2 separate regions of the Homo sapiens genome follow, and region 1 is linked to region 2. Evidence: fine-mapped expression QTL. A gene starts in region 2. The other region holds a variant in brackets. All regions are shown on one strand. Distances are between the middles of the regions.

Region 1 (5,373 bases), 100 kb after region 2:
CCGGGATTTTTCCAAAGCGCTGGCCAGGACCCCGAAGGAAGGGGAGGAGTCACCTGAAGCCGGGGAAGGCCCCTTGGGTGCTCTGCCTTGGATCCTTATGTTCACTGACTTTCGCGAAGCCCCCCTGGAGGGGGGCAAATCCGCGCTGTTTCCCCCAACTTAACTTCACGCGGCCCATTCTCCGAATCGCGTGCGCCAAGGCCGGCGTCGGGGGCGCACTGTGATGGCGCTTTGCTCTTCCCAGGCGAAGACAAATATCTCGACCCGATGTCCCCATGCATGCGGGTGCACAGGTTCTGAGAAAATCACGCAGAAGGCGGCTGCGATCCACGGCCCGGGCTGGGCTACACCTGCTTGGAGGTCGCTGGTGTGTGCGTGCGCGCGTGCGCAGCCTAACTCCTTCCAGCCCCGGGTGGTGAAATTAGTTTCCAATACTAGTACCTTTCAAGTTTCCATTTATTTTGACTGTACCCGTCTGAAAGCAGATTTCATTTACGCTAGCAAGACTGGAAGCCACAAATAAAGAAAAAGAAACGGATTCATTGAATCTCAGTATCTCAGTAGCGTTTAATAGATTCCCTTGGCTAAATTCAGAGCCCTGTTTGAATTCACTCACGCAGGAGTTGTTTTGTTTTTTTTGTTGGTAGAGGTGCCGGTTTCCCATCCCCACGGCTTATTTACAATTATGGGTGTTGTTATTTTTAAAGGATTCACAAGGTGACTAACTCTCTGTTATCTGTTGAATGGAAGGAGTGTTACATATGCAAGACCGAATGGGGCAGGCCGAGCCCCCGCCCTATGCTATTCTACAATCCAGATGGGATTCGTGATTAGAAAATAAAATTGGCCAAAGCTGTCTCGGAATCCTTTTCCCACTTCTAATTTCATCAGCACTATTAATCAGAGCTCAAAAGAGCAAGGAAATAACATCAGTTACTTTTAGATAGAAATATGTTTATAAATTTTAGATAAACTCATTTTAAGATTTCTAACTTTTGGGGAGACTAGCACTCACCACAGCATTTTTAAAACTAGGGTGAGACTTTTCAAAATATATTTCACTATATGCATTCTTCCCTTTTCAGTGTGTGAGTTAAAATATTACAAACATAAAATTATCAAATATCTTTCCCTTGATTAACCAACCTGATTAACCCCTTAATTAATTAAGCCTAACAACTGTCCCCATCACAACTTATGACTCATGTGGACTCTATTTTTACATGTTTAATTTCTACGCCAGGGTATTTTCAGAGGGAAAATCCAAAACAATTAAATACCTTCAGTGGAATTAAGCGTAAGTAAAACTCAGCAAAATCTGTCTGGTATACAAAGCTTTGCAGAAAAATGTTTCCTTCTCTTTCAATAAAGTGACATTTTCCTCACAGCATATGACATTTTATGTGGCTTGGCTATTTGTTCCCCAGTGTTGGACGATCAGGGCCACTACGCACTCGTGGGGTTCTCTGCCCTGTCCCCCGAAGATTCTGCCTTTTGTGTTTCCTCGGGGCTGGGCTGGACAGAGGATGGAGGCAGGCGGCCCAGTCTGGGTCCAAACGGAACGGCAGCGGAGGTGGGGGTGGGGGTGGGGGCGGGGGGAATCTTCGCTGTTGTCTCTTCCTGGTGGCACAGGGGAGGCGGCTTGTCCTCTCGGAGGCCTCAGCCTGCCTCAGAGTACAGATTGCCCCCCCTCCCCCCGTCCAGCACGCGTCTCTTTTGCGTCCAGATTGGCCGCGACCGGAGCTCAATAGCAGGAGGTTAATTTCCTTCACAAAGGTGAAGGGGGCACGGCTCCGTGGGGGCTGCGCCCAGACAGGCAGCCCCTTTATTTCGCAGCGCCTTGATTGGAGCCCTTGATTTAGCATCTGATGTCAACCGGCAAACAAAATGCCCGCTCGGAATGAAAATGCATGAGGCCGCGCGGGGAGGAGAAAGCCAACTTCACTGGGGCGCACGAGGCCGACCGCGCGTTTCGGGCTTCGGCCAACTCGACCCGGATTAACCGAGCCTTGGACCACGCGGAAGCTCCGGGCGGCCTGGGTCGGGCCCCGCCAAAGATGCCATTCCCAAGCCTCCAAGAACCCAAAAGTTCAGAAATTCACGTTCCTCTGGGAACCCAGCCCAGCCCGCCCGCGCTCCAATCCCGCGCTTTCGGGAGACTGAGAAGGCCGTGCCAATTCCTTCTCAAACTCGAAAGAAACCTTCTCTAGCCCCGTGGGCGCGCGGAGGCTGCGAGCACAAACATCGCCCTCGGCCACTGCCAGAAGGCCGGGCCCCCTGTCCACACTTGGAACCCCGGGGAACCCTTTTGCTTGGCCTCTTGGGTCCAGCGGCCCATCCGTCCAAGGTCCGGGCGGAGGCCGTCCGGACCCTGCTGCTCTCTCGGATTCTTGTTTATTTCCCAAACACCACGCGGAGCCACTGCGCCTCCGCAACGATCTCCCCCGCACCGCCCCGGCGCGCCCCCGCCCCCACCCAATCAGCGCGCACAACTTCCCCCTCGGCTCCGGCTCGCGGATTGAACCCTCCTGACATATTTGGGGCCATTCTTCTCCTTTGTTGCTATTTTGCTAGCGACCCGCGGGTAATCCCCGCGCGGGAGGGGGGCGTGCATTGTCGCGCTGATGGACGGGCCCATTTGGCGGCTCCGCGCCCCCCGGAGGAGAGACACAAAGCCCAGGCACGTGCGCCTCCCCATAGAGAAGCAGCAGACCGTGAAGGGAGGCGGGGCCGGGCGTGTGCCTGGACCGGGCGGGGCGGCGGCGCCGGGCGGGGCGACCAGGGGCGCGCGCGGGGGCCCCGCGCCCTCAGGTACATCTGCCGCACCTACCGGGCGACCCCCGAGTCCCGGCCCCCTTTTGGCCGCCCCATCGCCCTCCCACCCTGCCAGGCTGAGGAGCTGCGGACGCGCTGATTGGCTCCAGGGGAAGCGGGAGGCGAGAACAATGGCCCCCTCCCCCCGTTAAAAGGGAGCGGCTGCCGGGCCCGGGGACAGGGACGCGCGTGCAGGGCGCAGAGCTGGGCCGAGCCGTCGCCGGCGCCACGCGAGTCCCGCAGCCGCCGCGCCCGGGCAATGGGCCGGGGGCACTGAGGGCCGCCGGGGCCGAGCGCGGAGGGGGGACCGAGCCAGTGCCGTGCCCTCGGGCCGCGCCAACATGCCCCGCGGCTTCCTGGTGAAGCGCAGCAAGAAGTCCACGCCCGTTTC[C/T]TACCGGGTCCGCGGCGGCGAGGACGGCGACCGCGCACTGCTGCTCTCGCCCAGCTGCGGGGGCGCCCGCGCCGAGCCCCCGGCGCCGAGCCCGGTCCCCGGGCCGCTGCCGCCGCCGCCGCCCGCGGAGCGCGCCCATGCAGCGCTCGCCGCCGCGCTTGCCTGCGCGCCTGGGCCGCAGCCACCCCCGCAGGGCCCGCGGGCCGCGCACTTCGGCAACCCCGAGGCTGCGCACCCCGCGCCGCTCTACAGTCCCACGCGGCCCGTGAGCCGCGAGCACGAGAAGCACAAGTACTTCGAACGCAGCTTCAACCTGGGCTCGCCGGTCTCGGCCGAGTCCTTCCCCACGCCCGCCGCGCTGCTCGGAGGGGGCGGCGGCGGCGGCGCGAGCGGAGCTGGCGGAGGCGGCACCTGCGGCGGCGACCCGCTGCTCTTCGCGCCCGCCGAGCTCAAGATGGGCACGGCGTTCTCGGCTGGCGCCGAGGCGGCCCGCGGCCCGGGCCCCGGCCCCCCACTGCCCCCTGCCGCCGCCCTGCGGCCCCCGGGAAAGCGGCCCCCGCCCCCTACCGCCGCGGAGCCGCCCGCCAAGGCAGTCAAGGCCCCGGGCGCCAAGAAGCCCAAGGCCATCCGCAAGCTGCACTTCGAGGACGAGGTGACCACGTCGCCCGTGCTGGGGCTCAAGATCAAGGAGGGCCCGGTGGAGGCGCCGCGGGGCCGCGCGGGGGGCGCGGCGCGGCCGCTGGGCGAGTTCATCTGCCAGCTGTGCAAGGAGGAGTACGCCGACCCGTTCGCGCTGGCGCAGCACAAATGCTCGCGCATCGTGCGTGTGGAGTACCGCTGTCCCGAGTGCGCCAAGGTCTTCAGCTGCCCGGCCAACCTGGCCTCGCACCGCCGCTGGCACAAACCGCGGCCCGCGCCCGCCGCCGCCCGCGCGCCGGAGCCAGAAGCAGCAGCCAGGGCTGAGGCGCGGGAGGCACCCGGCGGCGGCAGCGACCGGGACACGCCGAGCCCCGGCGGCGTGTCCGAGTCGGGCTCCGAGGACGGGCTCTACGAGTGCCATCACTGCGCCAAGAAGTTCCGCCGCCAGGCCTACCTACGCAAGCACCTGCTGGCGCACCACCAGGCGCTGCAGGCCAAGGGCGCGCCGCTAGCGCCCCCGGCCGAGGACCTACTGGCCTTGTACCCCGGGCCCGACGAGAAGGCGCCCCAGGAGGCGGCCGGCGACGGCGAGGGGGCCGGCGTGCTGGGCCTGAGTGCGTCCGCCGAGTGCCACCTGTGCCCAGTGTGCGGAGAGTCGTTCGCCAGCAAGGGCGCTCAGGAGCGCCACCTGCGCCTGCTGCACGCCGCCCAGGTGTTCCCCTGCAAGTACTGCCCGGCCACCTTCTACAGCTCGCCCGGCCTTACGCGGCACATCAACAAGTGCCACCCATCCGAAAACAGACAGGTGATCCTCCTGCAGGTGCCCGTGCGCCCGGCCTGCTAGAGCGCGCCCTCCACCCCGGCCCCCGAACTGTGCCTTCGCTTGGAGACCCACAAAGAGAGTGCGCCCTGCACTCCCCGAACCCGAGTCCGCGCTGGGGGAGCCTCGCCCCCGCCCCCACCGGGTGAAAGTGTCGTCTCCGCTTCTCTCGGTGTGGCGTGACGGTAACCCCATACTCTCCTTTTGACTCCTTTTGGAACCCCCACTTTTACGTTGTGTCCCTCCGCCTCCCCCATGGCGCAACAGGAGTCAGTCTCTTTCTGTACAAGGGAGAAAAGCTGTACGCGTTTGTCTCGTGGTTGGAAGCCTCCCCTTGGCGGGGAGAAGCTTTTTTTCTTGCTAGTATTCGCTGTGTTCATGGTCTAGAAATGCGGTCTGGTCTCGCCTCGCCTACCAATCTCTGCTCTCTATGTATGTAGCGTACGGGTTGTTTTGGGTGAATCTTGAGGAATAAATGCCTTTATATTTCACAGGCTGTAAATTGAACTTCCCACACGATTAGCTTTATTATGGCTTGTGAACTGCTGGAGTCTGGCTTTACCTTTTTGTATGTGAACAAATCAAATTGCTTAAAAAAGAGTTTTCTTTAGTATAGCCACAAATGCCTTGAACTGTTGTCTGGGATTGTTTTGTGGGGGGAGGGAAGGGAGTGTTCCGAAGATGCTGTAGTAACTGCCTCAGTGTTTCA
Region 2 (5,373 bases):
CAGCTACCTGGGAGGCTGAGGTGGGAGGATCAATTGAGCTTGGGAGGTCAAGGCTGCAGAGAGGCATGATTATGCCACTGCACTCCAGCCTGGGTGACAGAGCAAGACCTTATCTTAAAAATTTTTTTTCTTTTAGACTTTGCAGGCCATATGGTCTCTGTTGCAACTCTTCAACTCTGCTCATTTAGTGAGCAAGCAACTATAGACAATATGTAAATGAATGGGCAGGTTTGTGTTCTGATAAAATTTATTTATTAAACCAGACATGAGCTGTAGTTTGTAGTAACCAGCTTTTAGCCATAACATTTTTGACAAATCATTACCATTTCATGAAGTCCAGACCTCCAAATGTACCATAAGTTCCCCAAAAGCAGAAAAGCCAGTGGTTCAAGACAAAATGCACAGTTCATCTTTAAGACTGCACCCAATCCTGTCAGCCTGCAGTGCTGTGCTTTAACTTTGAACCTTTGTGTGTTTTGGTTGTTTGGGCTAGGGAGCATTTGACCAAGAAAAGAGCCTTCGAAAGTGGCACTGCAAGGTCTTAAGGTGGAATATTGATAGCAGAGAATTTAGAAACCCCAAAGCAAGAAGCGCTGTAGTCTCTTTCATGTGCCTTTGTATTGTCCTCTTGGTTCTCAGATGGAGGAAGAGCATCAGTGTTATTCTGCTGACTTGCCCAGTTGTCAGGGATGGTGATGCTGTGGTGCCCCCTTAAAGGGAAATGTTTTTTCAAGATTTAAGACTGACTCCCAGCAGCCAGTGCATAAAGCCATTTGGAGTGCCTGCTTTTGTCCACCAAATAGCCAGGATAAGAAGTATGTGGAAATTAGTTTCCTGTCTTACATGTAGGTGATTTTCTCCAGGTCTGGTGCTTAATGACTCCCCCAGGCACCTCTCAGGTAGGTGCTCTTAACACTGAAATGCTAGGACCAAGCTCTGGGAGCCTTCAGGGAAACCTGACCTGGCCAAGTTCATTTAACTCTGTGTAGAGGCCCTTTTCAAGTAAATTCTCAAGTAAAAAAAGTTAAGAAAAAATGTTAACATCTTGCCTTAAAAAAACTTTCTCCTCTTTGTATCTTTTCTGTAATCCAGGTCATACTCAGACATAACTTTAGTCCCATTCAGACCTTATTCTTGCCATTATTATTCTTGCAGCATCACTGGATCACAGTCCAAATCTCAGAGCAGAGGAGGCCTAGGACAGAAAGCCCGTCCCCACCTGAGCCAAGAACCAACAACCACAGACAGAATTATACCCACAGAGGCTCCCAGGAAATGCAGCAAAGAGTAGGATCCAGTGTGAGAGGAGGCCTCGAGGTAGAGCCTCCTAAATAAACCATTGGCTTCTCTGGCAGGCTGAAATACATTTAGCTGGGAGGGCATTCCATATAGAAATACAAATTCATGCCAAATCACTTCAGTCACCTTGTGACCTCTATTTCTTAACTGAGACTTTGGGTATATGATACTTGAGTTTCATTGCTGGGCTTTCAAATCCCTTTTCATACTGCAGAAAGCCTAGTGATCTTTCCAGAACTGCATTTTGAAAAGAATATAGCTGTTGCAGCATTGCTTCTGAGACATCTACAGTACCATACTTGGCTGAAGCTCCAAGCCATTTCTTTGATAATTTCAGCTCTACTCTATCTCAGTGTCACTTGTATCCAGCATAGTGCCTGGCACATAGTAAATGCAAAATAAATGTTTTACTGAATGTAAGTGAAGACAGTTCAGGATGTAACTCTTTTCCTTACCTCCCACATGGTGAGTTTTATCAAAACTTTTTGCATTCGGCCTACCTGGAAATAGATGGTCAATTGAGATGAAGACAAGAGAACCCTTGAATGAAATTGAAGCTATTCTTTAAAAATTCATCCTTAGTAATGAGAGTAATAACATGCTGGCTACACAGGATGAGTTAAGCTCCTCCTCACGAATAACAGACATTTATAAAGTCAGTCTAGCTCAGGTTCTGGAGTCACGTGACTTGGGTTCAAATCTTGGGTCTGCCGTTTCCCTGGGCAAGTTACTTAACTGCTTTGTGTCTCAGATTCTAGATAATATCTACCTCACATGGGTTGCTGAGAGGGTGAAAAGAGATAAATGAGATTACATGCCATACTCAGGACAGTCTCTCATACATAGAAAGAGTTTCATAGAGGCTGCCATTAGCATTGCTCTTACTTCTATGTGTGATGGAATTAAAGGTACCCTAGAGTAGAAGTCTCAGCCCTTGCCACCAGGGCCCTGATGAAGTTGAGGATATCAGTCTCTATTTAAAGACAGGGATCCGTGTACACCAGGTGCCAGTCAGCTATAGAGGCACTGTGGCCTTCAGGAGAGCCCTGGAGGCTGTGAAGTTTGGAGAAGGCCTCCCCGAGAAAGGAGGATTTGAGCTCAGTCTTGAAGAGGGACAGGATAAGAAGAGAGAGAGGCTGGGGGAGTTTGGATTGTGTCCAAAAGACACTGGGCCAACAACGTGGGCTGGGCAGAGTCTGTGAAGGGCAGCAGCAGGAGATGAAGCCAGAGGCATGGGCAGGGACAGACACTGGCGGGCCGCAAGCACCCAGCCACGTCCAAGTTTAACTGGTTACCTTTTAGGGATGGGAGCTGACCAGGCGGGTGCCGCTGTACACACATAGCACTTTGGGAAAATGGCCTTTCCATCTGTAGTACCCATGCCAGCAGAGAGAAGGTGACCACGGGAGAATGGCTTACCATGGATGGCAGTAGCCAATAGGGGCGAGGCAGCTGTGGATGCAGGAGCTAGCTGGAAGTGGCCACCCTTGCTGCATGTGGTGGTCTTGCTGACACAGCCACTGCTAGCTTATTTCCAAGTCAGCGATGAGATGGTGGTGTTGCAGGGCTTTTCCGTAGTTCAGCTAAAGATGGGGTCCTTGTCCGTCCCGTGGCCACGAAAACGTAGCCTCGCAGACGGTTTGAAGGGTGAGTTAAACAGGGTTTTACTGGGTGAAAGGAAAAAAATGGGGTGGAGGAGGGGGAAGCAGGATCCTCCGCAAGGCAAGCCGGCTACTTGATTCCCAGGTTCCACACAGGAAGAGGAGGGGCCAGGCTCCTCCCCACTGCAGATGGCATGCATTTCCGGAGGCTCCACCCCAATGTGCAGGCTGGTTGGAGTTTTTCTAGGGACTCCCTCCCACCTGCCTGTCTCATTGGCATTTGAAGCCAGAAGCTAGAAGTCTGGCACATGATGGAAAGCAAGGAGCAGGGCTGTGCTTATGCACGTTTGAAAAGTCGCATGGAGCCATCCGTGACCGTCCTGGACATTTCAGTCCTTGCTTTTTCTTCATGTCACCCTAATAACACCAGGAGGAATGTGGACAGTTTTCATCATAGTTTATTTTTACTCCCTCAGTGCTAATTTCCCCTTTTTTAAATACTTTAGCATGTGAGTTGGGGCAAGGGAGCCAAGGACAGTGAAAAATAGTTTCATCGTGTCCCACTGGCTGTGGTTGGGTGACATGTCCCTCCGGGAACCACACCCTGAATCCTAACAAACACCAGTGCTGATGTTACTGAAGCCCAGGGATGTGAGGGGAGAATGGTGGATGGATTGTTCTAGAACAGTGGATATTGGGCATCAAGAACAAGAGATACTCCCAGGAGGAAGTCGGCTCTCCTTTGAACTTCTACCCATTGCAGACGCACACAGATACCACCCCAGAGAGTAGCTCCTTCCCACAGTCACTGTTGTATTTCACATCTTCTGCTTCCAAAGGAGAACACAGTGGTTCTGTGATGGAATTAGTCCATCCAGAGGACATGGTTTTCCGGGCTCTAGAGTTGGATGGATTTATAGAAGTAAATTACCCTAAACTATTAGAACTGCTCTAGTGCCATGGAGAAGAGCTGACATCACAGGCTCAAATGCTGCTTTCAACTGCAAACAAAACCTGGAGTGTTCTGCTGGGGGGTTTCTGATAGAACCCAGCAACCCGATACATTATAACAATTTATGGCACTAATTGAAACTAATTGAAATTCATCTGCTATTACCTCTGTACTTTCCATGAAAATGAAAAGTAGGATGAAAGTAAAGTAAAAAAAATAAACTACCTTAATGGCTCAAAATGGATCAATTATTTTCATCTTTAGCTAAATACAGTTTACTGCCTTATTAAAAGCATGTTTGTAGGAAAAGTATAACATTAAAATTCCACTGCATGCATCATCGAACAGAGGCTTTGTTATGTTATATCTAATATATTCTTCCCTTTTTATTCAGCAGAGCAGAACGGGACAGGTCACGTTTTGGGCATAGAAATCTTATGCTTTGGCTTCTAAAAAGTAAAAAGCGCATTGTCTGGTTCTATTCGTGGGCTATATATATATATATATATATATATATATACACACACACACACACACATACATATATGTATATACACACACATATATACATATATGTATATATACACATATATACATATATGTATATATATACACGTATATGTGCATATATACATATATATTTCATTAAAATACAAAAGAATAGGTAAATATGCATAGACATAATTTAAAATATATAAACTATAAAATGTAACATACACATATATGTATATGTGTACATATATATATATACACACACATATATAGACAGAATCTTGCTCTGCCATCCAGGCTGGAGTGCAGTGGTGCAATCTAGGCTCACTGCAACCTCTGCCTCTCAGGCTCAAGTGATTCTCCTGCCTCAGCCTCCTGAGAAGCTCAGATTACAGGCATGCACCACCATACCCGGCTAATTTTTGTATTTTTAGTAGAGATGGGGTTTCACCATGTTGGCCAGGCTGGACTCAAACTCCTAACCTCAAGTGATCCTCCCGCCTTCGCCTCCCGAAGTGCTGGGATTACAGGCATGAGCCACCACTCCTGGCCTGTTTTTTAATGAGTGTTTATTTCACAATTTATTAATAATCTGTGATTGCTACTTAAAAATATTTCATTATCTAGTTATTTGCTGAAGATATTTACCCATATAAAATGCCAGTTGGAGTATATTTTAGTAACGTGTTACATATCCATCTGCAAGTGTACTGCAGTGCTATGAGACCTGATTTTGAAATAGACTCACAGGGTTTGAGTCCTGGTGACCCACCTGCTTGCCATGTGACCTGACCTTGAGCTCAAGATTTAACCTCTCTGTACCTTATTTTCTGGATAAAATGATAAACCCTGTCTCACAGGCCTGTTGTGAGGATGAATGAGTCATATGTAACCACTGTATGTCTGTTTTGAAGCAGAAAAAGGAAACATAATTATTCATTAAAATACAAAAGAATAGGTAAATATGCATAGACATAATTTAAAATATATAAACTATAAAATGTAACATATAATTCTTGTTTCTCTGGC

Direction of the effects. Positions count from the first base shown, and alleles are read on the strand shown. Sizes are in standard deviations (SD) of each study's normalised expression.
For the expression in prefrontal cortex of the gene that starts at base 3,062 in region 2, allele C in region 1 goes with a lower level than allele T (large effect, 0.75 SD a copy in CommonMind).

What was found.
Region 1: its variant is fine-mapped to the expression of CFAP61-AS1 in prefrontal cortex (CommonMind, PIP 0.95).

The regions. Positions count from the first base shown.
Region 1 is chr20:20,365,113-20,370,485 of GRCh38, forward strand. INSM1 (INSM transcriptional repressor 1) reads left to right here and starts at 2,992. Exons shown (of 1, transcript NM_002196.3): 1 at 2,992-5,373. The coding sequence starts at 3,156. The coding sequence ends at 4,688. RefSeq lists an enhancer at 2,085-2,855. The variant C/T (reference allele first, on the strand shown) is at 3,206.
Region 2 is chr20:20,264,776-20,270,148 of GRCh38, forward strand. It overlaps CFAP61-AS1 (CFAP61 antisense RNA 1), which reads right to left and starts at 3,062. Exons shown (of 4, transcript NR_183979.1): 1 at 2,719-3,062. The region is part of intron 21 of CFAP61 (cilia and flagella associated protein 61); the gene reads left to right. RefSeq lists an enhancer at 2,291-2,791.